7 linked regions of the Homo sapiens genome follow. The protein of the gene in region 4 interacts with the protein of the main gene of each other region in a pairwise test. Each region holds a gene or a part of one and is shown on either strand. Other genes may lie near its edges.

Region 1 (4,137 bases), on a different chromosome or scaffold from region 4:
AGTTGGCCAGGCTCAGATCTCTGACAACATGGCTGTGGAATTGTGACTAAATGTCCTCTGCCTGATCCCTCTCTAGTTTGTAATCATTCTTAGTTTTTCTCCACTGAAAAGACCACATTCTCCTTAAATGGCTGGAATGGCAGAGTTGTTGCTTCTCCCCCAGGTGTGGGGCTTGACGCTTCCAAGAGCTGAGCCTTGTCGAGGAAAAGGCTCAAGTGACAGATGTGCTGAAGTGCCTTTGTGTGGAAAGTGGCGTTAGGTGGCTCTGAGTGCTGGTGACAGGAGAGCAGGTGCCTCGAGGTAGGAGGGGAGGCAGACAGGATGATAGAGCATTGGGCATTGGGTGGAAGGCACAAGGCAGGAAATTGAGACAAAAGGAAGGAGTGAGCTCCAAAGGCAATCCGATGTTTGCCAAGTGGCTGCATTGAGCCTTCTAGCCTTGCTAGTGGTTGATGCTTTTTGTACCTTTCCTCTAAATCGCATCAATCCTTGTTAAGCAACTGGAGATATTTTGGAAAAATCCACAAGAAAGAGAAAAAACAGAAAAGCAACATGAGGTGAAAAGTGCTAGGAAAAAAACAGGGGTCTGATGAGTCTAGTCCAGTAAGTCAGGGCTGCTCAAAGATTAATGTGGACTGAAGATTGGCTCTGACCCCCAAAACTCTCCCCTTCCATCTCCCTTCCCAACTCATTTCAAAGAAGAAAGAGGGTTTATTGTCCCGGCTGTCTTGAACTCTCTTGATGCTCTTTGGATGAAACAGAATAGATCATATGAGCCTGTGCAGCATAGTAAGGCAGGATGCGACTTTCTGCCGTTATTGCCGTTGGACATGCATGGATGTTTATCTGTATGGCTGTATGTGTGTATGTAGACAGATGTGTGTATGCCTGCATAAGAAATCACCTTTCCAGAGGCTCAATCCTGTTAATTCATCTAGCTGTCCTGGATAACTTAAAATATATTTTCTTAATAATGTCAAAACTAATCTTCCAATTCCACTTAAAAGTCAATAGCATTGCTGGGTGTGATGGCTCATACTTGTAATCCCGGCACTTTGGGAGGCTGAGGTGGGCAGATCACTTGAGGTCAGGGGTTCGAGACCAGCCTGGCCAACATGGTGAAACCCCATCTCTATTAGAAATACAAAAATTAGCCGGGCATGGTTGCGCACGGCTGTAATCTCAGCTACTCGGGAGGCTGAGGTACAAGAATTGCTCGAACTCGGGAGGTAGAGGTTGCAGTGAGCTGAGATCGCACCACTGCACTCCAGCCTGAGTGATGGAGTGAGACTCTGTGTCCAAAAAAAAAAAAAAAAAGGTAAAAAATAAAATAAAATACATAAAAATAAAAATAAATAGCCAGATGTGGTGGCACACATCTGCGGTCCCAGCTAGTCAGGAGGCTGAGGCAAGAAGATTGCTTATGCCCAGGAGGTAAAGGCTGCAGTGAGCCATGATCATGCTACTGCATTCCAGCCTGGGTGACAGAGCAAGACCTTGTCTCAAAAAAAAAAAAAAAAAAAAAAAAAAAGGCAAGAGTGTTAGATCAAGTATACAACAATTTTGGCTGATATGAAACACATGCACAGCACTCAAAAGATAAAGCTAAACCTCTTCAGATTGCACAGGTATTTATCAACCTGAGAGACAGCATTTTTGGCATCTAGCTTTGTTCAGTAGATCCTGTTATTTCTCTGTTATTAAGGAAGAGATCATTTTAAAGGTAGCCATGATGTGAGTCTAAGTGTTGGAAGCGCAACCTAAATAAATGAAATGACAGTTTAGCCCCCAATATCTTTTAAACCAATAGTTCCATCTTCTTCTCCTTGTAAACTTACTGCTGAAACTAATGAAAAGTAGAAGAATTGACTAATTTGGCTGTGCTTTTCCTTCCCTTCCCCATCAGTGTCTGATGGAGATGCTATAATTAGCAATGTAATGAGAATTGAAGGGTAAACAAGAAGAATTATTCCCAGAACACACATCAAGGGTTAGAAGACTGGAACAGGAAAACCAGCCTGAGATGAAAATATTTTCTCTGCCCAACCAACGGGCATCTATACCTAGAGTTCTATATACAGATCTTTCTAGGCAAAGACAAGGGAAAGAGTGGTGGTCACATTGCTTTCAGGAAACTGGTTTATGCCTAGACTCTTAACACCTGTTGCTTTGCAAAACTAGTGTGAAGGATTGGTTCTCTGTTTATCTGGGATTCAACTGAGCAGAACTCCCAAATATTAAATCTGTATTTTTCTGCACTTAACTTGTAAAGATAAATAATTGGCAAATATGCTTCTATTGGAAACTTATTTTTAAAAAAATTAGAATAGTTTTAAAAGATTTAGAGGTAGAAGGCTCTTTGCATACCTAATGTTAGTTCAGTCGTCTTCATTTTATTCATGAAGAGAATGACACTGAGAGAGGTCACATCATTTGTTCTAAATGTCGGATTAAAGCCAAGATTCCTGAGATCCAGCCTAGTACTTTTTCCAGGGAATTCAGTGGACAAGGAAACATTATTCTGCCTATATCAGCAATACTTTATGATAAGAACTGTTCTTCGTGAAGAGCCTGACTTCATGAAGAGAGCCTGTCTAACTCCTGAAGTGCTTCTGAATGTTTTACTTTTTCTCCCTAATCTATTTGTTTTTTTTAAAAAAGTAACTCTTTTTTCTGAGCTAGCTGGAATATTCATACCTGACACCCCATCTCCCAACCATCGAGGATGAATGGAGATTCCCTTTACATGCTCCCCACTCTCAGCATTGACATCATATGACTTGGTTGATCTGTTCTTAGCAGAAACCAACTTGTCCCTTCAAAGCCAGCTCAGAAGGCAGGATGTCTTAGGTCCAGGCTATCAGGATGTACCATTGCTCTTCCTTTTCACTGTGTTTTAGGTAAAGTCCACCTCAAGTAAAATTTGTCTAAGCCTTTACTTTATAACTCCTCGATTGTTACTTTTTTTTTTTTTCTTTTGAGACGGAGTCTTGCTCTGTCTCCCAGGCTGGAGTGCAGTGGCGTGATCTCGGCTCACTGCAAGCTCCGCCTCCCAGGTTCACGCCATTCTCCTGCCTCAGCCTCCCGAGTAGCTGGGACTACAGGTGCCCACCACCATGCCCAGCTAATTTTTTTGTATTTTCAGTAGAAACGGGGTTTCACTGTGTTAGCCAGGATGGTCTCGATCTCCTGACCTCGTGATTCACCCGCCTCGGCCTCCCAAAGTGCTGGGATTACAGGCATGAGCCACGGCGCCTGGCCCTCGATTGTTACTTCTGATGGTATTCTTATGCTTGCTTGGTTTATGCCAATATGAGAAAATAAAATTTTCAAATGGTTCACATGTGTCAATGATTACTTACGTACAGGGTGATAGCTATTTTTGTTCTTGGTGATGAAGCAAATGTTTCAGAAACCCGACTGAGCTTATATAAGAATCCTGTTACCAGAATGCAACTGTTATTAAAAATACAGAAATAATCAGAATCACTGGAGTTAACTCTTTCTATAATTACAGACAAGGATAAGGAATAACCCTATTGCCTGCACACAAGTAGCCTAACCAAGTGTTCTTGAGGGTTTTCTTGTTTTTGTGTTTTGAGACAGGGTCTCACAACTGTCACCTACCCAGGCTTGAATGCAGTGGCACGATCATAGCTCACTGCAGCCTTGACCTCTTGGACTCAAGCAGTTGTCTTGCCTCAGCCTCCCGAGAAGCTGGGACCACAGGCGTGCACCACTACGCCTGGCTAATTTTAATTTTTTGTAGAGATAGGGGTCTACTATGTTACCCAGGCTGGTCTCGAACTCTTGGGCTTAAGCGATCCTCCCGCCTTAGCCTCCCAAAGTGCTGGGGTTACAGGCAGGAGTCGCCATGCCCAATGAACATCTTTATTTCTAAAGTACGATTTTTCATATTTCTTTGATTGTGGATTTTCTCCCCTGACTGCTGCAAAGCAGAAAAAGAAAGAAAAAGAAAAAAGATTTGCGAAGTTAACATTCATACATTAACAACTGCCGCAAACCCTCTTGGTGTTCTGCAAATGAGACTTCTAGTGTGAAATCATTAATTGTGAACCGAATTTTTTTGTCTTTCAGAACAAGGCAAAGGCAATCTGCATGTAACATCACCAGAAG
Region 2 (3,834 bases), on a different chromosome or scaffold from region 4:
TCCTTGTTTACAAGGAAAGACTTTGCCAAAGGTCTTACTGAAATCTACGTAACTTAACACCTGTTAAGCTCAATAAAATCACCAAAACAAACAAACAACACAAAAATCCCTGCAAAATCTCATTGGTCCCATAGTAAGCAGACAACACAAATATTAATCACAGTCAGTATCCATGGGTTATGTGTCCATGGATTCAACCAACCCTGGTTAAAAAATATTCAGAAAAAAACGGCAACAAAAAAAGAATTAAAAATAATACAAATAAATATCATATAATAACTATTTAAATAGCATTTACATTGTGTTGGGTATTGTAAGTAATCTAGAGATGATTTAAAGTATACAGGAGGATGTGCATAGATTATATGCAAATACTATGTCATTTTCTATCAGGGACTTGAGCATCCAGATTTTGGTATCTGCAGGGTCCTGGAACCAATCCCTGAGGATATTAAGGGACAAATGACATACTTCTATGAATGGAGCCATAATCTAACAGATTCCACATCAGAGAAACAAGACTGTGAAGTATTTAAAGTCCTTGGTGGATTCAAGGATTGCCCACATTATGAGATTTAGGAATTAGGGGTGTGGAGGGAGGTTATCTTTCAACTGATTCACAAGAAGGGCTTTTGCACACGTCATTCACTTGGCTCCTTTTTGTTGTTGTTGTTCCCTGTGTAATCAGGTATTTGCTTTGGGATAAAGACCATTCCATCACATAGTCCAGCTTATCCTGCTGTGAATTCTAATCATGTGTATGCAGAACTTTGATCGGTAGCCATGGAAATATAGATGATAGCACTAATTTGGCATCTTAAGGTTCCTGAAGGAATAGGTGAGAAGAGGGGCAAAGTCAGGCAAGAGAACACCCTGATGAAATACAAATAGCTTCACTCAGCAGCAGAGCATGGCAAGAATTGTTATGCGCAAGCGGAAGGCAAACTGATGGTTTGCCTTGGAGGTGGTTTTCCCCATGTCAGAAGAATTGGAATCTTAGGTGTGTGCTCCTTACAGAAGACGTGTGTGATGCCTATTTATACTCACTAAGCAGATTCTATGATTTAAAAACATATACTAGTGTTCTCCCTGAAATCTTAGCTGCCAAGGGTTGTGAAACTCAATTGTTTTAGTCATAAGTAGTTACCACAGAGCGGTATGATACATTTTTGTAAAAAAGATTTGAGAGTGCATGGCAGAGATAGGTGTGTAATCTCAGGACAGAATATCGTTATTTTCCAGATGGAAACAAATCTTTTCAATTAGACCCCTCAGGATTTCAGTTTCAAACTGCTTATGGATGCTTAAGCCAGTAAAACAATGAGCTGCTTAGCTTAGCTTATGGCAAATGGCTTAAAAACTTGTGGTATTTTTAATTGGCTTTTTATTTATATAAAGGCAATACCCTTATCTAACAAATGTTTATTCAGTGCCTACTATACATACTGTTCTAGGCTCTGGAAATACAGTAGCGAAGAAGCCAGAAAAAATCCCACCCTCCTGAGATCGAATTGTGGTAAGGGAAGACAGGCAAGAAACAAAATAAATTCATAAAAAAAAATTTTCAACGATGCTAAGTGCTTTGGAGAAAATAAAGCAGGCAAGTGGGGTAAGTGGACGTGTGGGGCAACCTGAAGGACTTTGGCTTGGACTCTGTGAACTAGGAAGCCCCTGCAGGGTTCTGAACAACAGAGCAACACGATCTGACTGTATGTGAACTGGATCAGTCTGGGGAATGCTGCTAAGAAACTGGAGAGGAGCAATAAGAGAAACTCAGGGACCAGAGAGAAGACACTGGAATAATTCAGATGAGAGGTGGTGGCTGGACCCAGTGGCAGCAAGGAAGGTGGTGAGAAGGGATCGGGCTCCAGACATACTTTGAATATAGAACCATCAAGCTTTGACATGGATAGGATATGGGTTGTGACAGGAAGAAAAAAGCCAAGGATAATTCCGGGTTTTCTGTGTACACTGTTTGAGGGGAAAAAAAAAAAATCACACGATTCTTGTATCAAATAATAGCAGTCCTCTACCTCACTCTTTCCAAATCCTAATTCCAGCTCTCCACAGGCAACCCTTTTCAAACGTTTTAAGTGTTTCCTCTGGCATTTATTGCCACATTTCTAAATACTATACTGACAGTGCTTGGTTTTTCCACCAGATATTAGTGATATCTCCTGACTTCCTACTATGAAGCAGAGGATATCTCACTCTTACACCACTGTCCACTGGCCCCACATATGCACGCACACGCCTCAAAAGCACTTTCTCCCACATCCTCCCCAAACCACATTTTTAGTGAAATCAATATTCAGGGTTTTCCTTATAAAGGCTACACAAATATCGTTCAAAGCAAACCCACATAACATATTATGATGATGACCTCTCATAAGTTTTTTTCCCCTTTTTGTTTTGTTTTTCTAATCCATTCTCCAACATGAGACTACCCTCACATGCCCAAACATCACTCAGGATCTGATCAGACATGCCAGGGAATATAAGCTCTTCCATTTCTTCCTGGAGTCCTTCAACCATCTACTCTAACCTGGACCCACTTGTACTGCTACCATCCTGGAGCATGACATCCCTGCAGCTCCAGCCTGGGGATTCCTCTCGCCTTGCTCTGTGGTGGATCTCAGCTCTTGGATCTTTTTCTTTGGATGGAGGACATCCTCAGGTAGAGTCAAGACTGCCCACATTCCAATCCCAATTCTACCACTGACTAGCCATGTGACCTTGAGAACTCACTTCTCTACGCCTCTTCCCCACTTACAAAACAGGGAAATGTGAGTGTCCATCTCATATTGTGGCTGTAAAGTACTGAAGGGAAGCACAGTAAGCACTACTTAAGTGTCAGCTATGACGATAATGACTACAGAGAATGTGTGCATGGGAGATGTCATTAGCCTATATTTACCCTTCACTTGATGGTTCAGAAAGGAAGAGAATTCTGAGTTGGACAATATTTCCCTAGCTATTGCAAAGGTACTGCTCTACTGTCTTCTACCTTCTAGTGCTATCAGTGAGAAGTATGACAGTATTTTAATTCCTGCACCTTTGTAAGCGACCTTTTCTCTGAAGTCTTTGAAATCTTCTCTTTAGCTTTGGCCTTCCAACATGCATTCTTTTGTGCCTTGATGTGAACTCTTCCTATTCATTTGCGCTGTATTAAGTGAATTCTTTTCATTCTACAAACTCACGTCCTTCAGGTCTGGGACGTTTTCTTACATTAATTCTTTATTTCCTATCTTCCCTTTTCTGTTGTAATGGCTATAAACGTTATAGATTGACTCTTATTTTCTTACCTTTCCTGCTTTTCATATTTCAACTTTATCTTCTAACCCACTAATGTAATTACTAAATTTTTGCTGATTTAAATTTTTGCTAATTTTTAAGAGTTCATTTTGATTCTCAAACTTTTTTATAGCCTAATGTTCTTATTTCATGGCTACAACGTTACCTAAGAATTTTTTTGTTTGTTTTGTTTTCAGACCCGTCTGTCACCCAGGCTGGAGTGCAGTGGCACGATCCTAGCTCACTGCAGCCTCAAACTCCTGGGCTCAAGCAATCCTCCTACCTCAGCCTCCTGAATAGGCATGCACCACCACGTCCAGCTAAATTTTTTATTTTTTGTAGAGAAGGGATCTATTTTGCCCAGGCTGGTCTAGAACTCCCGGTCTCAAGCACCCCTCCCACCTCAGCCTCCTAAAGTGGTGGGATTACAGGCATGAGCCACCACGCTTGGCCTCTAAGGATATTAATTATCATTCTCAATGAAATTTTTTTCTGTTCTCTATAATTCTGTTTCTATGAAGGTCTTTTTTTCTGTGTGTT
Region 3 (4,137 bases), on a different chromosome or scaffold from region 4:
AACCCCAGGATTCTGCCCACATGGGCAGAGTTGCAGGAAGGGACTTCCAGTAGGAAAGATCCTCCTCTTATTGCTTGGGGTCAGGGGCTGGAGGGCAGATGTTCTCCAGCTGATTCCAGGCTCCTGTCCCGTTTACAGCACACTGGGTCCAGCCCCCTGCATCCTGGAAGGCCCAGGTTTCCCCACTCCCCTTAACTCTCCCTGCCTGCACAAGGCCTGGGCTTCACTCACCCTCTTCCCTCAAGATGGGCATCTTGGTGATGATGCAGCACCCTGGGGAGCCCACCTGTATTCTCTTGGCCAGGTGCCTGGAGTGCAACACAACATGTGAGAGTGAGAATCTTCCCAGACCGCCTGCTATGGACTGAATTGTCTCTCTAACCCCCAGTGTGGTGGTATTTGGAGGTAGGGGCTTTGGGGAGGTCATTACGTTTACATGCAGTCATAAGGGTGGGGCCCGAATCAGATAGGATTAGTGCCCTTATGAGAAAAGGGTGATGCCAGAGAGCTTTCTCTTCACTCATGCACGGAAGAAAGGCCATGTGAGGACACATTGAGAAGGCACTTGTCTGCAAGCTAGGAAGACAGCCCTCACCAGAAACCAACCCTGATGGCACCATGATCTTGGACTTCCTGCCTTCCAGCAAATATATTTCTCTTGAAGCCACCCAGCCTGTGGTGTTTTGTTATGGCAGCCTAAGCAGACTCCTACATGACAGTGCCCCTTGAGAGACCTGTCCCGGGCCTCTTTACTTCTGCCTCCCTCTCTTGTTTATTAAGTTCCTGGGTGGTGTTCATTTCTGGATCTCCAAATAACGCACAGGGCTTGGCAAGTATTAGGCCCCCTGTTTAAAAAAAACAAAAAGGATCTTTAGAGGTACAGCACTCGAAAATCATGGAGCCTCTTGGCCAGGCACGGTGGCTCACGCCTGTAATCCTAGCACTTTGGGAGGCTGAGATGGGTGGATCACTTGAGGTCAGGAGTTTGAGACCAGCCTGGCCAACATAGTGAAACGCCGTCTCTACTAAAAATACAAAAAACTAGCCAGACGTGGTGGTGGGCGCCTGTAATCCCAGCTATTTTGGTGGCTGTGGCATGAGAATCACTTGAACCTGGGAGGTGGAGGTTGTAGTGAGCCAAGATTGCATCCCTGTACTCCAGTCTGGGTAACAGAGCGAGACTGTCTCAAAAAGAGAAAGAGGCCTGTCGCAGTGGCTCACACTTGTAGTGGCTCACGCCTGTTATCCCAGCACTTTAGGAGGCCAAGATGGGCAGATCACTTCAGGTCAGGTGTTTGAGACCAGCCTGGCCAACATGGTGAAAGCCTGTTTCTACTAAAAATACAAAAATTAGCCAGGCGTGGTGGCAGGCACCTGTAGTCCCGGCTACTTGGGAGGCTGAAGCAAGGGAATCACTTGAACCTGGGAGGCGGAGGTTGCAGTTAGCCAAGATTATGCCACACATTCCAGTCTAGGTGACAGAGCGAGACTCTGTCAAGAAAGAGACAGAGAGAGAGAAAGAGAGAAAGAGGAAGGAAGGAAGGAGAAAGAAAGAAAAGAAAAATTATGGAATCTCCTGCTATGCGGCATTCAAAATAAAAAGGTTGGCCTGGAGCTGTGGTGCATACCTGTAGTCCCAGCTACTAGGAAGGCTGAAGCAGGTGGATTGCTTGAGCCCAGGAGTTGGAGGCTGCAGTGGGCTATGATCGCACCAAAACCGAAAACATACTAAGTTATGAGATAAAGCCAACAATGTTTTGATTACCTTTTCCCCAGTGTAGTGATTATGTGAATATCTATTCTGAAATTTTAAGAAATAAACTCGACTGGAGTCTGTCTCAAAAAAACAAAACAAAACAAAAAAACAGAAAGAAACTCTTTCTTCCACCTGAATTTTCTTTTTCTTTCTTTTTTTTTTTTGAGACGGAGTCTTGCTGTCACCCAGGCTGGAGTGCAGTGGCGCGATCTCGGCTCACTGCAAGCTCTGCCTCCTGGGTTCACGCCATCCTCCTGCCTCAGCCTCCAGAGTAGCTGGGACTACAGGCGCCCACGACCACACTTGGCTAATTTTTTGTATTTTTAGTAGAGATGGGGTTTCACCGTGTCAGCCAGGATGGTCTCAATTTCCTGACCTCATGATCCGCCCGCCTCAGCCTCCCAAAGTGCTGGGATTACAGGTGTGAGCCACCACGCCCAGCCCTGAATTTTCTTATGATTTGGAGCCAGTGCTTTGCTGGAGACTGCACGGCAGCCTGCCACAGGCAATTCTTCCAGCACAGTGATTTCATCAAGTGTGCAGTCATTCAGACCTTGGTGTTTTTCAGTATTATCCCTTACACAGTGGTGGCTGCACTAGCTACACCCCAGGCCTGTGGTGTGCAGTGAGAAGGTTTGGGAGGCACTGTGAGGGTTAAGAGGACGAGCAAATAAATGAAGAAAGAGTGAATGATATGGATAAAGCGGAGGGACACTCCTATCTCAATGCCAGTTCTTCCTGGTGCTATCCCCAGAAGCAGCCGGTCTCCTTGAGCACCTACAAGCTCAGCACCACCCCTCTGGGCCCACCATCAGCAGCTCACCCATCGGAGAGCAGGTAGTACTGGCAGGACATGGGGATGCCCTCCTCCGCGTGGACAGTCTGCTCCACGATGAAGACTTCAGCCTGCTGATGGTCTACCTGGATGGTCTGGAAGCCCAGGTTTTGCTGGCAACAGCCAAAATTGGGGGGTGGGAGGTAAGGTGGATGCCCGCCAAGGGCTCCCCATCATCTTACCTTAGCCTTTTCTCCATCTCATAACAACCTCAAGACATTTAATATTGCATCTCCAAACCTCCAAGCTGAGTTGGCGACCCCTCATAGGGAGCTAGCTCCAGGTTGCCCTTGCCCTGACCCCTCCCATGTCATCTCGCTGACCAGGTGCTTCTAGTTGGCAAATTCTGTTACAGGGATGAGAAGCGGTATGCGGGGGGGTGTGGGAGCGGAGAGGTAGGATGAGCTACTAGGGCCAGTGGGTGGAGGTAAAGTGAGGCTCAGAGGTGTGAGACCAGACAGATTTGTGGCCACCTCAGACCTGTGCTGTTGCTGGCAGGCTGTCCCTGTTGTGATTAAAACTTAAACCCCTGTTGTAGCTGCAGCTATGGAGAAAAAAGTGCTAATGTTAAACACATGTTTCAAAGAACACGGAGGGGAATGGATTGTGCTTGTTCATGTCAAATGCATTGCTGCTTGGTGTGTTTTGATAGACAAGCCTGGAATGTAATTTACAAAGATGGTCAAAGAAACACAAATCAGCCCCCAAAGTGTCTCACTGGAAATTGTGTGTTCAGTGGCATGGCTTTAAAATCACTGATTGCAGGAAGTCCTAGGCATGCTGATTATGAAATTTTAGTTAAAAACAAAAAACAAAACAAAAACGGAACACCCTTTGGGGTTAAGAAATAATAAAGGAATATTTCAGTAAAGTTGGACATGTTACACTTCCTAAAGTTAAAAAATGATTTATTTTTATTTATTTATTTTTTTGAGACAGAGTCTCCCTCTGTTGCCCAGGCTGGAGTGCAGTTGTGCGATCTCAGCTCACTGCAACCTCCGCCTCCTGGGTTCAAGTGATGCTTCTCCTGCCTCAGCCTCCCGAGTAGCTGGGATTACAGGCACTTGCCACCACACGCAGCTAATAATTTTTGTATTTGTAGTAGAGACAGGGTTTCACCATGTTGGCCAGGCTGATCTTGACCTCCTAACTTCAAGTGATCTGCCCACCTTGGCCTCCCAAAGTGCTGGGATTACAGGCATGAATCACTGCGCCTGGCCAAAATGACGTTTTTTTTTTTTTGTTTTTTTTTTTTGAGACAGAGTCTCGCTCTGTCACCCAGGCGGGAGTGCAGTGGCGCGATCTCGGCTCACTGCAAGCTCTGCCTCCCGGGTTCACGCCATTCTCCTGCCTCAGCGTCCTGAGTAGCTGGGACTACAGGCGCCTGCCACCACGCCCCGCTGATTTTTTTTTTTTGTATTTTTAGTAGAGGCGGGGTTTCACCATGTTAGCCAGGATGGTCTAGATCTCCTGACCTTGTGATCGGCCCGCCTTGGCCTCCCAAAGTGCTGGGATTACAGGCGTGAGCCACCACACCTGGCCCAAA
Region 4 (4,664 bases):
ACTCGGGCTGGAGATGGGAAGCCCAGGACAGAATATGGTACATCTTCCTGATGTATCCATTTCTCTTAGAGAATTAAGCAAAGTATTTGAAAGTTTAACTGGAAATTTAAAAGGGGCTTTTTAAAAACATTAAAGCTGGCTGGGCGCGGTGGCTCACGCCTGTAATCCCAGCACTTTGGGAGGCTGAGGCGGGTGGATCACGAGGTCAGGAGATTGAGACCATCCTTGCTAACACGGTGAAACTCCATCTCTACTAAAAATACAAAAAATTAGCCGGGCGTGGTGGTGGGCACCTGTAGTCCTAGCTACTCAGGAGGCTGAGGCAGGAGAATGGCATGAATCTGGGAGGCGGAGCTTGCAGTGAGCCGAGATCGCTCCACTGCACTCCAGCCTGGGTGACAGAGCAAGACTCCATCTGAAAAAAAAAAAAAAATATATATATATATATATATATAAAGATTAAAGCCAACATGGATATATTATGGAATATAGGGTCAATTCATATGAAGTTTAAAGATCAACTACAAGTGATTTCAGGCCGTGGAGGCCCCTTTGGGCTATCTCCTGACTTTCCTAACATATCCATCTACTCTGTTCGGATACTATGGATAACCTTAGGAAATGTTTGACAAAGACCTCCTTATTCCTTTCTCTCTGCCCCTGAATATCTTTCCTAGATTATTTAAATGCATTTTTTTTGTTTTGTTTTGTATTTTGAGATGGAGTCTTGCTCTGTCACCAGGCTGGAGTGCAGTGGCACCATCTCGGCTTACTGCAACCTTCACCTCCCAGGTTCAAGTGATTCTCCTGCCTCAGCTTCCCGAGTAGCTGGGACTACAGGTGGGTGCCACCATGCCCAGCTAATTTTTTTGTATTTTTAGTAGAGATGGGTTTCACTATGTTGGCCAGGATGGTCTCTATCTCTAGACCTCGTGATCCGCCGGCCTCGGCCTCCCAAAGTATTGAGATTACAGGCGTGAGCCATTGTGCCCAGCCTTAAATGTGTTTTTTATGGCTCTCTCGGTTTGCACTTTTCAGCCTCTTTCAAAACGATCTCTTACCCCAGAAACTTCTTGTTCTCCAACTAGTTATCAAAGCCTCTACCTTTAAAATTCTCTCCTCTACAATTTTCTTAAGTAATATGTGGTGGTGGGGGGGAAGTATTACACGGACCCGTAAAACACAAATCGCTGTCTAATCTTTTCAGTCGTGTCCTCCATTGATTCTAATCATCCACCTTAAGGCTTCCAAGGCACAGAATGCTCCATCATTTGAAGATTCTTCTCTAAATGCAGAGGGAAAGACAGTCCACTGTGGCCTCTTAATGCAACTTCTTCCTCAAATCAATCCGTGTTTCTCCCTAGAAACGGCAGGTGGACCAGGACATGAGTATGTTTATGGGCCTGCAGAATTATGTGACACAAAAGAATGTCATCGGATGGATCAACACCTCAATTAATGAGGGCAGATACTTGGGCTGGACTGTGTAGCCTCTTTGAAGGCCTACCACAGAACTCTGATTTCATGGGTGGACTGTCTGCGGAGGAGTCCTGACTTAGCAAGAAGCCCAAGTAAAGAATTTTATGGGAGAAGGGACTCTTCAGAGGAAGGCAAATAACAGACTGAAGGAAAGGGCGTTTGAAAAGAAGTGAAGAAATAAAAAGAAAAAAGACATTACATACTGTGTCCACACCCTCTGCAGTGGGATATAAATGCTCCCTAGAGGAAGGAGACCCACAGCTCTGTGGCTTGGAGAATTTAGACTCTGTCTTCAGCCAGGCACTCCCTCCCTCCCTCCCAGCACTATGCCCTACAACTTCTGCCTGCCCAGCCTGAGCTGCCGCACCAGCTGCTCCTCCCGGCCCTGCGTGCCCCCCAGCTGCCACAGCTGCACCCTGCCCGGGGCCTGCAACATCCCCGCCAATGTGAGCAACTGCAACTGGTTCTGCGAGGGCTCCTTCAATGGTAGCGAGAAGGAGACTATGCAGTTCCTGAACGACCGCCTGGCCAGCTACCTGGAGAAAGTGCGTCAGCTGGAGCGGGACAACGCGGAGCTGGAGAACCTCATCCGGGAGCGGTCTCAGCAGCAGGAGCCCTTGCTGTGCCCCAGTTACCAGTCCTATTTTAAGACCATTGAGGAGCTCCAGCAGAAGGTGAGCGGCATTGCTGTCATCTCCAAGCAAGAGAGTTTGCTGTGATTCTGTCTGTGATAGAGAAGTGTGTTTCTTGCTTCTGTGCTGTCATAATTCTTGCTTCCTCTTTTATTTCAAAATGGCTTAAGTCATTTTTAAAAAGTTGATGATTTCATATTTATTTTCAGTCCTCACTAAGCCACCTCTCACTCCCCAGATCCTGTGTACCAAGTCTGAGAATGCCAGGCTTGTGGTGCAGATCGACAACGCCAAGCTGGCTGCGGATGATTTCAGAACCAAGTGAGTTGTTCGGAATTTGCACTAGTGTCAATTGCTTCTGTTTAATCTTTAAAGAAAAGGGATTTCCATCTGAAAACAGATCTACCCACTTGTTGTGAAGGATTCTGCAGAGGACTGGGGAGAACCAAGCAAAGAAATGCAAAAATGGATGAGGACTCACATCAATCTGTTTGTTTTGGGATGAATATTGGGTATTGATGGAGCCTCCAGAAACCTCTGTCTCCTGGGCCTATTCATTACAGAAAGTGGAAAGATAAGGCACATGAGGTTATCAAAAATCATTCCTGTGAGTCTTGAAGATCTACCAGGTAGTACTCTGACCCTGTCCTTGCGCAGGTACCAGACCGAGCTGTCCCTGCGGCAGCTGGTGGAGTCGGACATCAACGGTCTGCGCAGGATCCTGGATGAGCTGACCCTGTGCAAGTCCGACCTGGAGGCCCAGGTGGAGTCCCTGAAGGAGGAGCTGCTCTGCCTCAAGAGCAACCATGAGCAGGTGAGACTAGAAATGAGAAATGCACAAACCTGTCTCAGCCTCTGGCTCAGGGTTGCTTTAGTGATTTGGGGCAGCAGAATGCAGAGTATGAGTACAAGACTGAGGGTTTCCTTTGAAAACATCACGGTAAGAGAAAAATTGGAGAGAGATAAGACCTGTTCATGTTCCCAGACAGGAAACATCTTTCACTTTAAACTAGCACATTATTTGAGTTGCCCGGAGCAGCTCCATGTGCTTGCAGTTGATCAATAGTTGTAGAATGAGTCCTAGCATTGCAGTGTTATTGCTTTGTAAAGTCTTTTTTTTTTTTTTTTGGCAAAGGCCAAGAAAAAAAATATCAAACCTTATAAATGTGAGTCTCTACTCTTTCAAAGTATTGGTGAAGAGTGTTTGTGAGATTCTTCCTCTCTCTTGGGAGGGGCCATGACATGCTCTTACCTCTTACTTGACAGCAAGAGTTTTTTGATATATGGTCTGAAATTGCACAGCCTATTTTTTTTGGCATTCTGAGGTCCTCACAGCCAATTGTAAACTGGGAAAGTTGAATATCAATTAGTTCATCCTTCAGTGGCATCCAAGCAAACTTTTGGGATTTTTTTCTGAAGCCAAGTGCCATGGCACAGCAGATGGTGGGGAGGGGGCTATGCCACATGGAGTGCCTTGAGCTGTCACAAACTGCTCCACTCAAAGTTTCTTTTCCGAGAAAATAGACTAACAGGGTTTCAACAAGCAATGCCATTCCTTAGAGTTCATTCTTTGCTGAGCATAGTAACTCTTGTATTTTCTGCATCCATAGGAGGTCAATACCCTGCGCTGCCAGCTTGGAGACCGCCTCAATGTGGAGGTGGATGCTGCTCCCACTGTGGACCTGAATCGGGTGCTGAACGAGACCAGGAGTCAGTATGAGGCCCTGGTGGAAACCAACCGCAGGGAAGTGGAGCAATGGTTCACCACGCAGGTGGGCATCTAAGCACGTGGCCCCTCAGGACCCAAGGCCCCCCAGGGCCCCGGAGGCAGGGTCTGATCCTTTCTCCCCTTGGGTGTTTCAGACCGAGGAGCTGAACAAGCAGGTGGTATCCAGCTCAGAGCAGCTGCAGTCCTACCAGGCGGAGATCATCGAGCTGAGACGCACAGTCAACGCCCTGGAGATCGAGCTGCAGGCCCAGCACAACCTGGTGTGTATTGTTCAGACCTGCTGGTGAGCGACGGGAACTTGGGAGGCAGAGTCCCGGGGATGTGCTTGGGGCCACACACTCTCCTTAGCTCTTGGAGCTTGTGACTTCCTTGTAATCCTGTGAAGAAACCCTTTGAAGGAGCAGCTCTCTGACATTCCCAATCTTCTCCACCACAGCGAGACTCTCTGGAAAACACGCTGACAGAGAGTGAGGCCCGCTACAGCTCCCAGCTGTCCCAGGTGCAGAGCCTGATCACCAACGTGGAGTCCCAGCTGGCGGAGATCCGCAGTGACCTGGAGCGGCAGAACCAGGAGTACCAGGTGCTGCTGGATGTGCGTGCCCGGCTGGAGTGTGAGATCAACACATACCGGAGCCTGCTGGAGAGCGAGGACTGCAAGTGAGTACATGGGCAGACGTGTTTGATGAAATGATGCACGTGTGAGTGTAACAGTTAGACACCATGCAAATATTGCATACCTTGGAAAGGAAATTATGCCTTCACACTAGACATGCTCAAACAGAACTCAGACAACATAATATGGCCATCATTTAAAACATAAATGG
Region 5 (4,137 bases), about 12 Mb from region 4:
ACACAAAAGATAACAAACACCTCAGAAACTTTAAAATTTTTTATTCAACAATGTACACTTATTGTCTCTCAATTTGATCTACAAATTTCTCAAGTTTTTTTTCTGATAAAATAAGTAAATCTGGGTATGGTTGTAGAGTGTTTGTAATTTATATTTTTAAAACACTGAACATGATGAAGACATCAATAAAGGAAGATCATCACGTAAATGACACTTCCTCAGAATCCATGACATCAGAAACAGCTATAGCAAATACCTAAGCATTTAGCAAAAGGGAAAATTTCTGGTGACTGTTCTTATATGTAGAAAAGACCTATATTTTTGACTGGGCAAAACAAACATTGAAACTTTTTTTTGAGCGGGGGGAACATCCTTTAACATAACTGTACTCCACTTATTATCCATTCCCCCAGATTAAGAGGTAACTCAGCTCCTTAGTGCCTCTGCACGAGACAGAGAAATTACTTCACTCCTCCAGTAGGTTCTAAGACTGAACATAAGTGAACTACTGACAGATGCGGAAGAGGAACCATAGCCATCTAAAATGATGCTTGCTACACTCCTGCATTTCTGCCTTTTAAGGCCATGCAATTAATATGGGTCACCTTTTAAGTCTTAACTGGATAACTTAGTTTTTAACTGCCACTATCAATGAAGATACATATAGAAGGGTTTTGCTGTGTCCTCAAAGGCAACAATATACTTGATGAAGAAGTAACCCTCTTCTGTATATTGAAAAAGCTATAAAATGGAAATATTTATTTTTTATGTAGGAGCATGGGGAAAATGCTATCAGTAATATCTTCTACTTAAACATATTAGCCTCTCCTACAAAGGTCCTGAACCAATTAAAAAAAAAAAAACTTTAAAAAAGATGATTTGACAAAACCTGGGTAGTAGTACATCTACACATTATAAGTACACATACACAAAGTAAAGCTATTTAGTACATACAGATTGCAGCACTTGAACCAAATGTACCCAACTCCTAAACTTGTTCTAATCAGCTTGGGCAATTTTTTAAAAGATACACGTTATCTTTAAAACAACCAGTGCTTTGATCTTACAAACAACTGAATAATTCTAATCTCAAGCCAGTCAATTCAGTAAACCAAATTTATGCTAAAGCAATAAAGGTAAAAGCCTATCCTACCTTTAAACCAGCTTTAAGACAAAAAATCGTCACCAAGTTCCATATGACAAAAAAGGGTCTTTCAGTTTGAATTACTTTCCATTTCTATTTGATCAAATAAACCAAAATATTACTAAGGAAGAGCATCCAATGATTTGTAAAGCTGATAAAACTGCCCTGTTTCAAGAAAAGCTCTTTAATAGATACAAGTCAAGCTCTCGTTTAAATTGAACTTTATTAAAATAGGTGCCAGTTTTCCTCTCTCCTAGTTCCACTGATGAGCTAGCCCAGAACTATGTAACTTTGAGCCAAGTTTCCAAAGATGGTAAAGCTAACAACAGCAAAGTAGTAAGGACAAATCGGTCACTTTTGGTAATGACACACAAATTAAACTTTCAAAACATGTGCATAGCTTTATTCATCTACTTAGATCTAACCTTTTCACGGAGCTTCGGCAAAATTCGAGTGTGCAAAATGCATTTCTAAAACGTAATGCAAGCAAAGCTTTCACATTTACACTGGCAGGAAATACAGAGAGAAACTAACAAGTCACATTAGGGAAAATTCAGATCTTTTTTTTTTTTAATGACAAGAATTGCACAGTTTATTATTTTGAGACAATTGTTGCAGACATAAATATTTAAAATTTTCTAAGCAAGGTGCTTTTAACAAAATTTTTAAAGTTGGAAAGAGCTGATAACTTGGATCATAGCTCACACAGAATTCCAAATTAAAGTGGACTCCATTATCTCCCTATATTTTGCAAACAATGCTTTGTATAACACTTCTTTAAAACACTAAAAGAGACAGCAAGCTGAAACTTTTTTCAAAGCACACAAGAAATGTTTACTTGAAGAAGGTGCTGAGGGGAGAAGGGAGTGAAGAATCCTTTTACTATTTCCCACTACAGGACAGCCACTAACAGACTAAGAACAAAAAAGATACAACAAAAAAAGTAAATCACTTCCCCAGCTTATAAAATAGTTCCAGTTTCGCAAGATCTGTAACTTTAAACAGAGAGCACCAGTTGGGCAATAGAATGAGCATTTCATACTGCATAAAAATTAGTGAGGTGGTAAGAACCATCGACTATCTCAGGCATTACTACATGGCGTTTCCAATTTTTTTTTTTTAATATACATGCAAGGCACATTGATATAAAAATAGATCTCTGGCCAACAAATATATTAAATAAGCAAATTAAAATTTTGGCTTTGCGATATTGGCAACATCAAAATATAACCAGATAGCTTTGGCCCACACATCTTTCTCATTCCTCCACCTCATTTGGTGTTTCCCACCCATTATTTTGGGTTCAATCACCTTCAAGTTTGGGTATGTGCTTGAGAAATGACTTTTCTTCTTGTCAAGTAGCATTCACTAAAGTTTTCCTTTGCTAAGTAAAAAGACAAGAGAAACAGCTGGAGTTTTGATTGATTTGATTTAAACTAAATCTGATTGGTTCAGGGCAGCACTATTTCCCCTCTATATACAAACAAAAAATAAGTCCCCAGCTTACATAGACAAATGTTTTCTAAAAGATCAGCAACAAATCAATGACACCACGTCCTTTAAGCCATTCTTCCCAATTCCTCTTTCTGAGGCAGAGAGAGGGAATAATAGAAACAAAGCTAAGATTTAAACTATTTTCAGTAGTAGAAGACATTTAAGGCCAAAAAGTGTACTATTAACAGAATTCTTATATTCCTAAGTTATTGTCCTTCATAGGACAATATCAGCTAAGAATTAGTTACTTGTATTGATTCCCTCCCAAAAAGAATTTTATAATTCATTCACTCTTGTTAGTGGCTGTGCTACAGGAAAGGTATCAAAGCAACCTATGGTATATGTATGGTATATAGTAATGTAAAAAGTGCATCACATTCTTGATTTTCAGTTTCTCATAGCAGCAGGATTAATCTAAGACAGAAAACAGTTGTATTTTCATTCTTAAAATGCAACAATATCTAATGAAATGTATTCAAGATCATGAAAGGATCCTCCTCTATGAAGGATAAATGAAAACAGATTAATAATAGACAAACAGGGTAAACTAAAGGCATTCATTCATATTTACATATTAAAACCACTTTTGTTAACACCAAATCTTTACATCTAGCAAAAGAAATAAGCATTTTAAGAATAAAGCAGACATCACTAAAGCAGTATCCATTTTCAGAGCCTTTGATTAGCACCTGAGGAAAAAAGGGTACATGGAAAGCTATGTAATTTGCCCTCAAGTTAATTTGTTGGTCTGAAGAGTACAACAACTTTGATATGCACTGAAAGTAAAACTAAATTGGAAAATAAATGTTTGTAGTTAGTTTAATAAGGCTGTAGAAAAGAGATACTTGGCCGGGCACGGTGGCTCACACCTGTAATTCCAGCACTTTGGGAGGCTGAGGCGGGCAGATTGCCTGAGGTCAGGAGTTCGAGACCAGTCTGGTCAACATGGTGAAACCCCGTCTCTACTAAGAATACAAATTAGCCAGGTGTGGTGGTGTGCGCCCGTAATCCCAGCTACATGGGAGGCTGAGGCAGGGGAATTGCTTGAACCAGGGAGGTGGAGGTTGCAGTGAGCCAAGATTGCGCCACTGTACTCCAGCCTGGGCAACAGACAGTCCGTCTCAAAAAAAAAAAGGTGGGGGGGGGGGGGATACTGCAGTATTATAAAATGGCTTTAGAACTCTGCACATAACAAAATTGTATGGAAAATAGGGAAGTCTGAATCAGCAATCCCATCACATATGAGGACGGCCATTCCATAGTTTCTAGCCCATAACTGATTTACCATTCCCAATAATGCAAGAGCAACATACCAATCATGCTGCAATGGGTGTTTTTATTATGCAGACAACCGAAAATTCTATTCGCACTATTGCTGGCATCCTTTAACTACTTTAAGACCTTTCTTGAGCGGCAAAACAGTGTGAAATTTAAAACTCAGTAAAGCAATGCTTTTGAGTGGAGCCAATGATTCATCACTCTCCCAGGTGGTCCTGGTT
Region 6 (3,268 bases), on a different chromosome or scaffold from region 4:
AAAGCTGGTGGGCAGTACGGAAGCTGGGGTCTGAACTCCTGGGTCCCTGAGGGGATAGGAGACTGGGACCAAGACATTTAGGTCCCCAAGTGGGAGTGTGAACAGAAGTCAGAGAACTGCATTGAGAATCACATTCCGGGTCCCCCAAAGGAAAGGAGTCATGGCGCCTGAGTCCCTCGGGGAGCAGATGCTGGGTGCCAGGAGGCTAAGTCTGTGTGTCTGCAGGGCACAGCGGGGTTCTAAGCAGAGCAAACGCTGGGGAACAGGATTCCTAGGTGCTGACGGGGTGAGGGCTACCACCTGGGGCCAGCAGAGGTGTAGACACGGACAGGCTTCCCGAACGGGGTGGGAGCTGCATCCCCGGGTGCCATGGTCCCCACGGCGACCAGAATAGGAAAATTCAGAAGCCCTGGATCCTCAGGGAGCAGCTGGAGTCCCAGGAACCTGGGGTGCCGAGGACGGGGCCACGAGCCTGGCCGGCAGAACCCAGAGGCTGGGGCGCCCTGGTCGGGGAGGGCCCGGGTATTCCCGGGTCAAAGGCGCGGCGGGGGGATCCCCGCGCCGCCTGCGCCCCCTCCCTGGTGGCGGCGGCAGGAGGTGGGGGGAGGCGAGGCTGCCGAGCGCGCTGACCATGGACAGCTCCAGAGCGGGCCTGTGTCCAGGGCGGCCGCCGAGCCTGCCTGGACCGTGGGACGCAGCCGGCTGTGCAAGCCCGAGGCTGGCGACGGGAGACGGAGTGCGCGAAGCGGGGACGATGCGGACGCGTCTGGGGAGTCTGGCACCGCCGCGGCGGGTGTCTGGAGCTCCCAGGACAGGGTCAGGAAGGGGGATCTAGGCTCTAGGAGGGGTCCCGGGGCCGGACCGGGAAATCCAAGCTCCTGGGCCCTGGAGGAGGCGCGAGGCGGCGGTGCGCCCGGGATTCTAGGGTTCGGTCGGGGACTCTGGGCGCCGGGAGGGGCACGCCTGAGTCCCCGGGGTTGGGGTGTGAAATCTGGGCTCGGGGGTCCCCTGGGATGAGGAAGGGAATCCGGGATCTCGGGGAGGCGGGGGAGGCTCGCCAAGGGGTCCCCAGGGTGGGCGCTGCCAGGAGGGCCGGGCCGGGCTCTTACCTGCCTGGTCCGCGGCGGCTGCGGGCGGAGCTGGGCTGCAGGAGGGACGTGGGGTGGAGTGGGGGGGCCGGGCGGGGCCCCTGGCAGCGGCCGGGGCCCGGCTCTGTCGCTTCGGAGCCCTGGAGCCCTGTCTCCGACGCTCGCGCGGGCTCCGCGTCTCTGGCTCCGGCTTGGGCGCTGGGGACCCCCCTCCCCCTCACGCTCTCACTGCCTTCTACCCCCAAAATAGCCCCCTGCCCCTGTCACCGATCAGCCTCCCCCCGCGAGGCCGCAGCCGCCAGATCCAGGGGTGCCCACCAGCGCCCCCCAAATCCCACCTTCCCCCCAAAAAAATTCCTCCTCCCTCCCCCTCCCCCCCCACGGCTCCCGGGCGGTCGTGGCCCCTTTAACAGGAGACTGACAGACGGCGAAGAGCGGCCAATGGGAGAGAGCGTCGGCGCCGGCCGGCGACTAGACCCCGCCTCCACACCGGCCGGGAGGGGTCGCGCGGGCGGAGAGCGAGAGGCGGGGCATAAGGCGCGTCGACCAATAGGCACGCGGCGTGAGGCGGCTGGGGCGGGAGGCGGAGCCCGGCAGGGGGATGATGTCACCTGGAGCGAGTAGCGCGCGGCGTGGAACGCGAGTCGCGACCCCGGCTCCCGGCAGTGGCGCGCACTAGCCCTCGCGCCGCACGGGACACGAGGGCTGGGCGGGCAGCGGGATGAGGCTAAAGGTTGGATTTCAAGGCGGGGGCTGCTTCCGGAAAGACGCGCTGTGTTTGGAAGGTGGAGTGAGCGCCCGGTGGGCGAGGGCACCTCATTCTGCACCCCTGCGCCCGCCTCGGGAACTGCACGCGGCACCCCCACCCGCGACTCCCACGCAGACAGTAGTGCGGCCTGCAGGGTTCCCCCGGCGGACGAGGCTAATGGTTCGCTCCGCCCCGCCCACACAGAGGCCGCCCACTGGCTCCGGCTGCGTTTCAGGACTCTGGAGGAAGGGACTTGGCCTTCGCCCTCAGACGCTCTTAAGGGTAGGCAGCGTTGTCCTCAGTTCTGCCCCAGCACTCAGACCCAGACTGGGTCCCTGCCTCCGCCCTCCGCCCTCGGACTAGTCTCTTGGAAGCCGGCCTGTCTCCGCCTTCAGACCTAGGGAGAGGTCTTAACCTCTGTTCTCAGACTCTGGAAAAGGCTTCTCAACGGCTTGGCCTGACCTCAGCTCCTCGCATTCCCTCCACATCTCAAGACACCAACCCAGGGATGCAGGACAGACACACAGACACTCAGTGAGGGTCAAATATCTTTAAATAAAGTGCCAGGAACAATAAATACTGTACAGGAAGAGAGTGCACGTGAACGTCCAGATCTGTGGTTTCAACCTCGAGACTCCAAGGACCTGCAAGGGGGGTGGACAAGGGACCCGGGATCAGGGAGGCTCCGGGTAGACAAGAGGGGCAGGACTGGGGTTGCAGAGGCAAGGGCCCAGGTAAGTGGGCTGAGGGATCCCAGCCACAGTAGGTTCCGTATCTTGGGATGGAAGGAAGCTAAGGGCTCCCCAGGGGATTTGGCCAAACTAGCCTGGGGTGAGAGCCTGGGCCAAGGGTCAAGGGTCAGGATCCCAGAGGAGGGGCCAGGGCTGGAAGATCCAGGAAGCACTGGCCTGGTTTGGGAGCCTGGGGTTAAAGGGAGCCCGTGGAGGCCCCAGGGGTGTGGTGACCCAGGGGCTCACGAGTAGCTCTGATGCTGTTGGCGCCGGCGGGCAGAGCGCATCTTCTCGAACCGGGCCTCCATCTCCTCCAGCACTCGCGGTGTGTAACGGACAACCAGCTTCACCGAGCCCTGGGCCGCCTTCAGCAGCTCCACCGCCTTCTCATGCTGCTCACCCTCAACGCTCTGCAGGGCCCAACACAGACAGCTGAGCCTGGGGCCCGCTGCCCTCGTCCAGCCCCCACTGGGAGATGGGACCCACTGCTAGTGAGCCTGGTGCCAGCCCTGAGATGTCAATGCCTCATGTCCTCCTCGTGGGAGTCATTAACTCCTGGTTCAGTGTCCTCCTCCAAAACCTCCCAGGATTCCCATGTCAGGGACAGCCCCGTGTTCCCTCAGTCCCTGGCCAAACGTCCAGACCCATCTTTGTGGCCTCCCTGCCCACAGCCCACTAATGTCCGCCCGCCTTGACTCCCT
Region 7 (4,137 bases), on a different chromosome or scaffold from region 4:
GGCTCTAAGTCACACAGCAAACTGGGGGCAGCCAGAACCCGATTCTGATCTCCTGAATCCCATTCAGGTCCTTATTCCAAGCCCCAATCCCCAACCCTGGGGATCTTTCCCTTGTGGGAGAGGAAGGGGATTTGGGGTAGGGGTAGGCGTTGGGGAGTGGGGAGTAGAGGTAAGCTGGGCAGGGACAGGAAACCTGTTACAGAGGAACCGGAAGTGGTGGCTGGGGTACATCCTGCTGCAGTTGTTAACTCTGTATGTTGATCGCAGAAGCAAACAACCTCCTGGCCTCCGAGGCCACCTTGCCCTGACTGGCAGGGGTCTAACAAGGGCAGCCAGCCAAGTGTATGTGCAGATGGACACATGTCCCTCACCTGCCCCAGCAGCTTTTTGGGACACTCTGTTTAGGACTTTCTGGGGGATCCTGGGTCTTGTTTGGGTGTTTAGTAGAGGGCACTGGTTCAGGGCTCGGGTGGTTCCCTTCATCACCCTTCCCACAAACAGAAGCCAGGACAAATGTGAGTGGAGCTTGACATGCTAGGGCTTCTTGTAAGTACAGAAGCCCCCTCTCCTGTAAACCCCACTCTAAAGACCTAAAGTCACCCTGGCATCTCCACAGCCACCAAGAGGACTAAAGGGTCACAAGGCCAAATGGGCAGGGGAGGGAAGTGAGGATAAGAGGGAGGGTACAGGTGGATGGGAAAATGCCTTCCCTGGCTTCACCCAGGAGTAAGGAGATAGGGACCAGATTCCCAGCCTTTTCTCCCAGGATGCCCTATCCCTGGGTCTCTTAGCTGAGTTTGTCCTGGCTTTCCAGAAGAAAGGCAGAAAGGGAAAATCTGGAACCAGAGTAACCTCCTGTCTCAGAAAGGTCTCCCCTTGCCTTGTAAAGCATCCTTCCTGTCCTGGAAGAAGTGGCAAAAGGTAAAGGAAAAAAAAGCACCCTTCCTAGATTGCCAGTAATGCTCAGTAATGTATCTGGCATTTAGACCTCTGTGTAAACAGAATTTGCAGATCATTTTCCTACAGTGAGGACCAGCAGAACCCTCATGAAAGTGTAATTTCAGTTTTCCTGGAAGAAGGCAAAATTACTCTGACACAGGCAGTTCTAGGCATCTGGAGACAGCTGGGTGAGGACAGATACCAGCATGGGAAGATGGTAAAGAAAGAAAGGGGATATGGGAAGGCACCAAAGGTGGTTTGGTCTCATTCATGGTTTTGCTTAGGTCTGGTCCCAAGTGATTCAGTCCCTGGGGCTGCCATCACCCTCACCTCATCAGGAACCATGATCAGAGGGTACTTGTCCTCAGACAGGAAGTTGAAGAGGCACCAGAGGCGGAAGGCATCCTGATTGGAGAGCATACTGTTCCCGTTGCTATCTGCCCGATAGTTCTTCTTGGCCGTCAGCGTCCAGCACAGCTCATCAAAGTGCTCTTTAACAAAAGCCCCCTCCTCCACCTGCCACCAGGGCTGCAAATCAGCTGACTGCATATCTCAGCTCTACCACGACACTAGGCTCCAGCTGGGTTTCTTGGGTTCATCTATGCCCCTGCTCCCCACCTGGCCAAGTCCAGGGCCCTAACTCAAGGGATCCCTGAGCTGATTACCAGGTAACTAGCTGGTTCCAACCACTCCACCCTCCACAACACACCCACACCCACCCAGGCCCCCTGACAACAGATTAACTCTAGTCTTTCAGCCCAGAGGACAAAGAAGGAGAAACCCAGCAGGAAGCTAAGAGCCAAGAACCTGGAAACACAGTGACAGATTGGAGGAGTTGGAGGGGGAGTTCAGGGGGACAGTCTGGGAAGGGTGGAGAACCCTGGAAGCTGGAGGAGGGCCGGGCAGGGATTCGGTGGAAGGTTATGGGTAGGGTGGGGCCCACCTCATTAGAGATGAGGGACATTGAAGGTGAATTGAGGGGGACAGGAAGGGGGCAGGTGGCTGGGATGTGAGGGACGTGATGGGACAGCAGTCACGGACAGAGCAGGCAGAAGTAGGAGTTTATGGCAGGGGCGAAGAGTTGGAGTGGCAAGGTATTAGGCTGCTGGCCAGGCTGGAAAAGTGGGGAGAGGTTACAGATGCTCCCTACAAGCTGGGCCCCACCTTGTCCAGGATGTACTTGTTGAGGTAGGGCATGTATCCCTGGCTGGACACAGGGCCGTCATCATCATCTCGGAAGTGTTCCTCCAGGGCCACGGGGTCATGGGGGATGTGCAGGACCGTGTACAGGTTGTGGGACAGCACCTGGGATAGAGTAGAGTGGCAGTGTGTCTTTCTGCACCCCAACCAAAACTGGGCCAGAGGACTGCTCCCCACCTCTCTGCTTGTCCTCACCCCATCCTGGCTGAGTTCTCTACACACACTGTTCAGTTCAGTAATAACTAAAACTTATATACTATGTGCCAAGCACTGAGCTAAAGTACTTTACATATCATTTGCTTAACCACCATAACAACTACTCATATACCCATTTTACAAATGAAAACTCCTGCAGCCCTGAGATATTTCTCACCCAAGGTCACAGCTGGCAGAACTGGAATTCAAACCCATGCAGTTATACTCTTAGCCACTTCATTAGGTATTGGTGTCCTCTTTCTACAGACAGGGAGACTGAGGCTCAAGGGATTCAGTAACTTGCCAAAAGACCCACACTGAACAAGAGCTTGGAGTTCAAATCCATCTCCATCAGATTCCAAAGCCCAAGTGCTTCCCACAATGCTAGACAGTTTGCAGGGTTTGCAGGGACTTAGTCTGCCACCCCAGGGCAGAAGCTGCCAATTTATCATGGTTTCCATCAAAGACTCAGTGTCCTGGCTGCAGTGTGCCTATCACCTAAGCGTGTCTGCTCTGGGAGAGGAGAGGGCTCAAAGAAGGGTCATGAAAAATGGTCCATGACATGGAGAGGGCAAGGCTTAGAAGGGATAGTGGTCATAATGGTGTGCAGGGGAAATGTGGGTTTGTTGAACAAATCCATGATATTAGAATAAAGGGGTTGAAATCTGAAATCTGGTGAAAATAAAATCTCCTTGGGGTAATTCTATTATAGCATTTGTCACAAGCAGTGTAAATGATTAAAAAGTCACTAGTTACTATTGCACACTTACCATATGCCGGTCACTGTAGGAGGTGGTTTATTTAATTAAAACTGTTTTTTATTTTATTTTATTTTATTTTATTATTTTATTTATTTTATTTTATTTTATTTTATTTTATTTTATTTTATTTTATTTTATTTTATTTTGAGACGGAGTCTTACTCTGTCACCCAGGTTGGAGTGCAGTGGCATGATCTCAGCTCACTACAACCTCCACCTCCTGGGTTCAAGTGATTCCCCTGCCTCAGCATCCTAAGTAGCTGGGATTACAGGCACCCACCATCACATTCAGCTAATTTTTGTATTTTTAGTAGAGACAGGGTTTCACCATGTTGGCCAGGCTGGCCTCGAACTCCTGTCCTCAGGCGATCCGCCCACCTCGGCCTCCCAAAGTGCTGGGATTACAGGCCTGAGGCACCATGCCCGGCCAAAACTTTTTTTTTTTTTTTCGGTAGAGACAGAGGTCTGCATATGTTGCCCAGGCTGGCCTTGAACTGCTGGCCTCAAGTGATCCTCACATCTGGACCTTCCAAAGTGCTGGGATTTCAGGCATGAGCCACTACACCCAGTCAAAGCGCTTTTTATACCCCATTTCTAGTCTTCACAATCACCTATATACGCAAATATTATTAAGCCTGTTTTTCAGGTGAAGACACAGAGGTTTGGAAATTTTAAGAGTAAATGGCAGAGCTGAGGTTGAAACTAAATGTGCCTGGTTCACAGGTTGCCTTCCTACTAGAATACTGATGTCAAGTCTCCCTCCTCCGTTGGATTGTGAACTCTGGAGACAAGGTCTCTGTTCATCTTTATGTCCCTCAGCATCTATGTCCTCTTTTGTACATCAAGTGCAATCAATACATGCTATATTGAAGGGCTTCTTCCACCACCAGCAGTTCACCTTGGAATCAGTTCCTAGGAGGCAGGAGCTAGCACTGTCTCGGAGATGGTGTGTGTGCCAAGCCTTCATTTTATTCTCTTTTCAGAGAGGAGGGGGAGAAAGTATTGAGACTTTGCCTCAGTGTCCTCCTGGGGCTCAGTTTTCC

The links.
Region 1: the proteins of KRT31 (region 4) and KIAA1217 interact in binary tests that used the Homo sapiens proteins (3 or more experiments, as listed by UniProt).
Region 2: the proteins of KRT31 (region 4) and PRPF18 interact in binary tests that used the Homo sapiens proteins (3 or more experiments, as listed by UniProt).
Region 3: the proteins of KRT31 (region 4) and CATIP interact in binary tests that used the Homo sapiens proteins (3 or more experiments, as listed by UniProt).
Region 5: the proteins of KRT31 (region 4) and NUFIP2 interact in binary tests that used the Homo sapiens proteins (3 or more experiments, as listed by UniProt).
Region 6: the proteins of KRT31 (region 4) and C19orf73 interact in binary tests that used the Homo sapiens proteins (3 or more experiments, as listed by UniProt).
Region 7: the proteins of KRT31 (region 4) and DEF6 interact in binary tests that used the Homo sapiens proteins (3 or more experiments, as listed by UniProt).

What each region holds. Positions count from the first base shown.
Region 1 is NC_000010.11:24,215,528-24,219,664, forward strand, and holds part of KIAA1217 (sickle tail protein homolog), read left to right. Parts: intron 1-4,098; coding exon 4,099-4,137. UniProt on the Homo sapiens protein: Required for normal development of intervertebral disks.
Region 2 is NC_000010.11:13,624,965-13,628,798, reverse strand, and holds part of PRPF18 (pre-mRNA-splicing factor 18), read right to left. Parts: intron 1-3,834.
Region 3 is NC_000002.12:218,363,195-218,367,331, reverse strand, and holds part of CATIP (ciliogenesis-associated TTC17-interacting protein), read right to left. Parts: intron 2,705-4,137; coding exon 2,580-2,704; intron 668-2,579; exon of another isoform or gene 534-667; intron 406-533; exon of another isoform or gene 309-405; coding exon 232-308; intron 1-231. UniProt on the Homo sapiens protein: Plays a role in primary ciliogenesis by modulating actin polymerization.
Region 4 is NC_000017.11:41,394,681-41,399,344, reverse strand, and holds the start of KRT31 (keratin, type I cuticular Ha1), read left to right. Parts: upstream 1-1,736; 5' UTR 1,737-1,805; coding exon 1,806-2,153; intron 2,154-2,349; coding exon 2,350-2,432; intron 2,433-2,768; coding exon 2,769-2,925; intron 2,926-3,721; coding exon 3,722-3,883; intron 3,884-3,974; coding exon 3,975-4,100; intron 4,101-4,276; coding exon 4,277-4,497; intron 4,498-4,664.
Region 5 is NC_000017.11:29,255,815-29,259,951, forward strand, and holds the end of NUFIP2 (FMR1-interacting protein NUFIP2), read right to left. Parts: 3' UTR 25-4,137; downstream 1-24. UniProt on the Homo sapiens protein: Binds RNA.
Region 6 is NC_000019.10:49,117,564-49,120,831, reverse strand, and holds C19orf73 (putative uncharacterized protein C19orf73), read left to right. Parts: upstream 1-1,688; 5' UTR 1,689-1,809; coding exon 1,810-2,199; 3' UTR 2,200-2,430; downstream 2,431-3,268. Other genes in the region: LIN7B (protein lin-7 homolog B), read right to left, coding at 2,459-2,480, 2,814-2,977.
Region 7 is NC_000006.12:35,307,777-35,311,913, reverse strand, and holds part of DEF6 (differentially expressed in FDCP 6 homolog), read right to left. Parts: intron 2,245-4,137; coding exon 2,104-2,244; intron 1,456-2,103; coding exon 1,270-1,455; intron 1-1,269.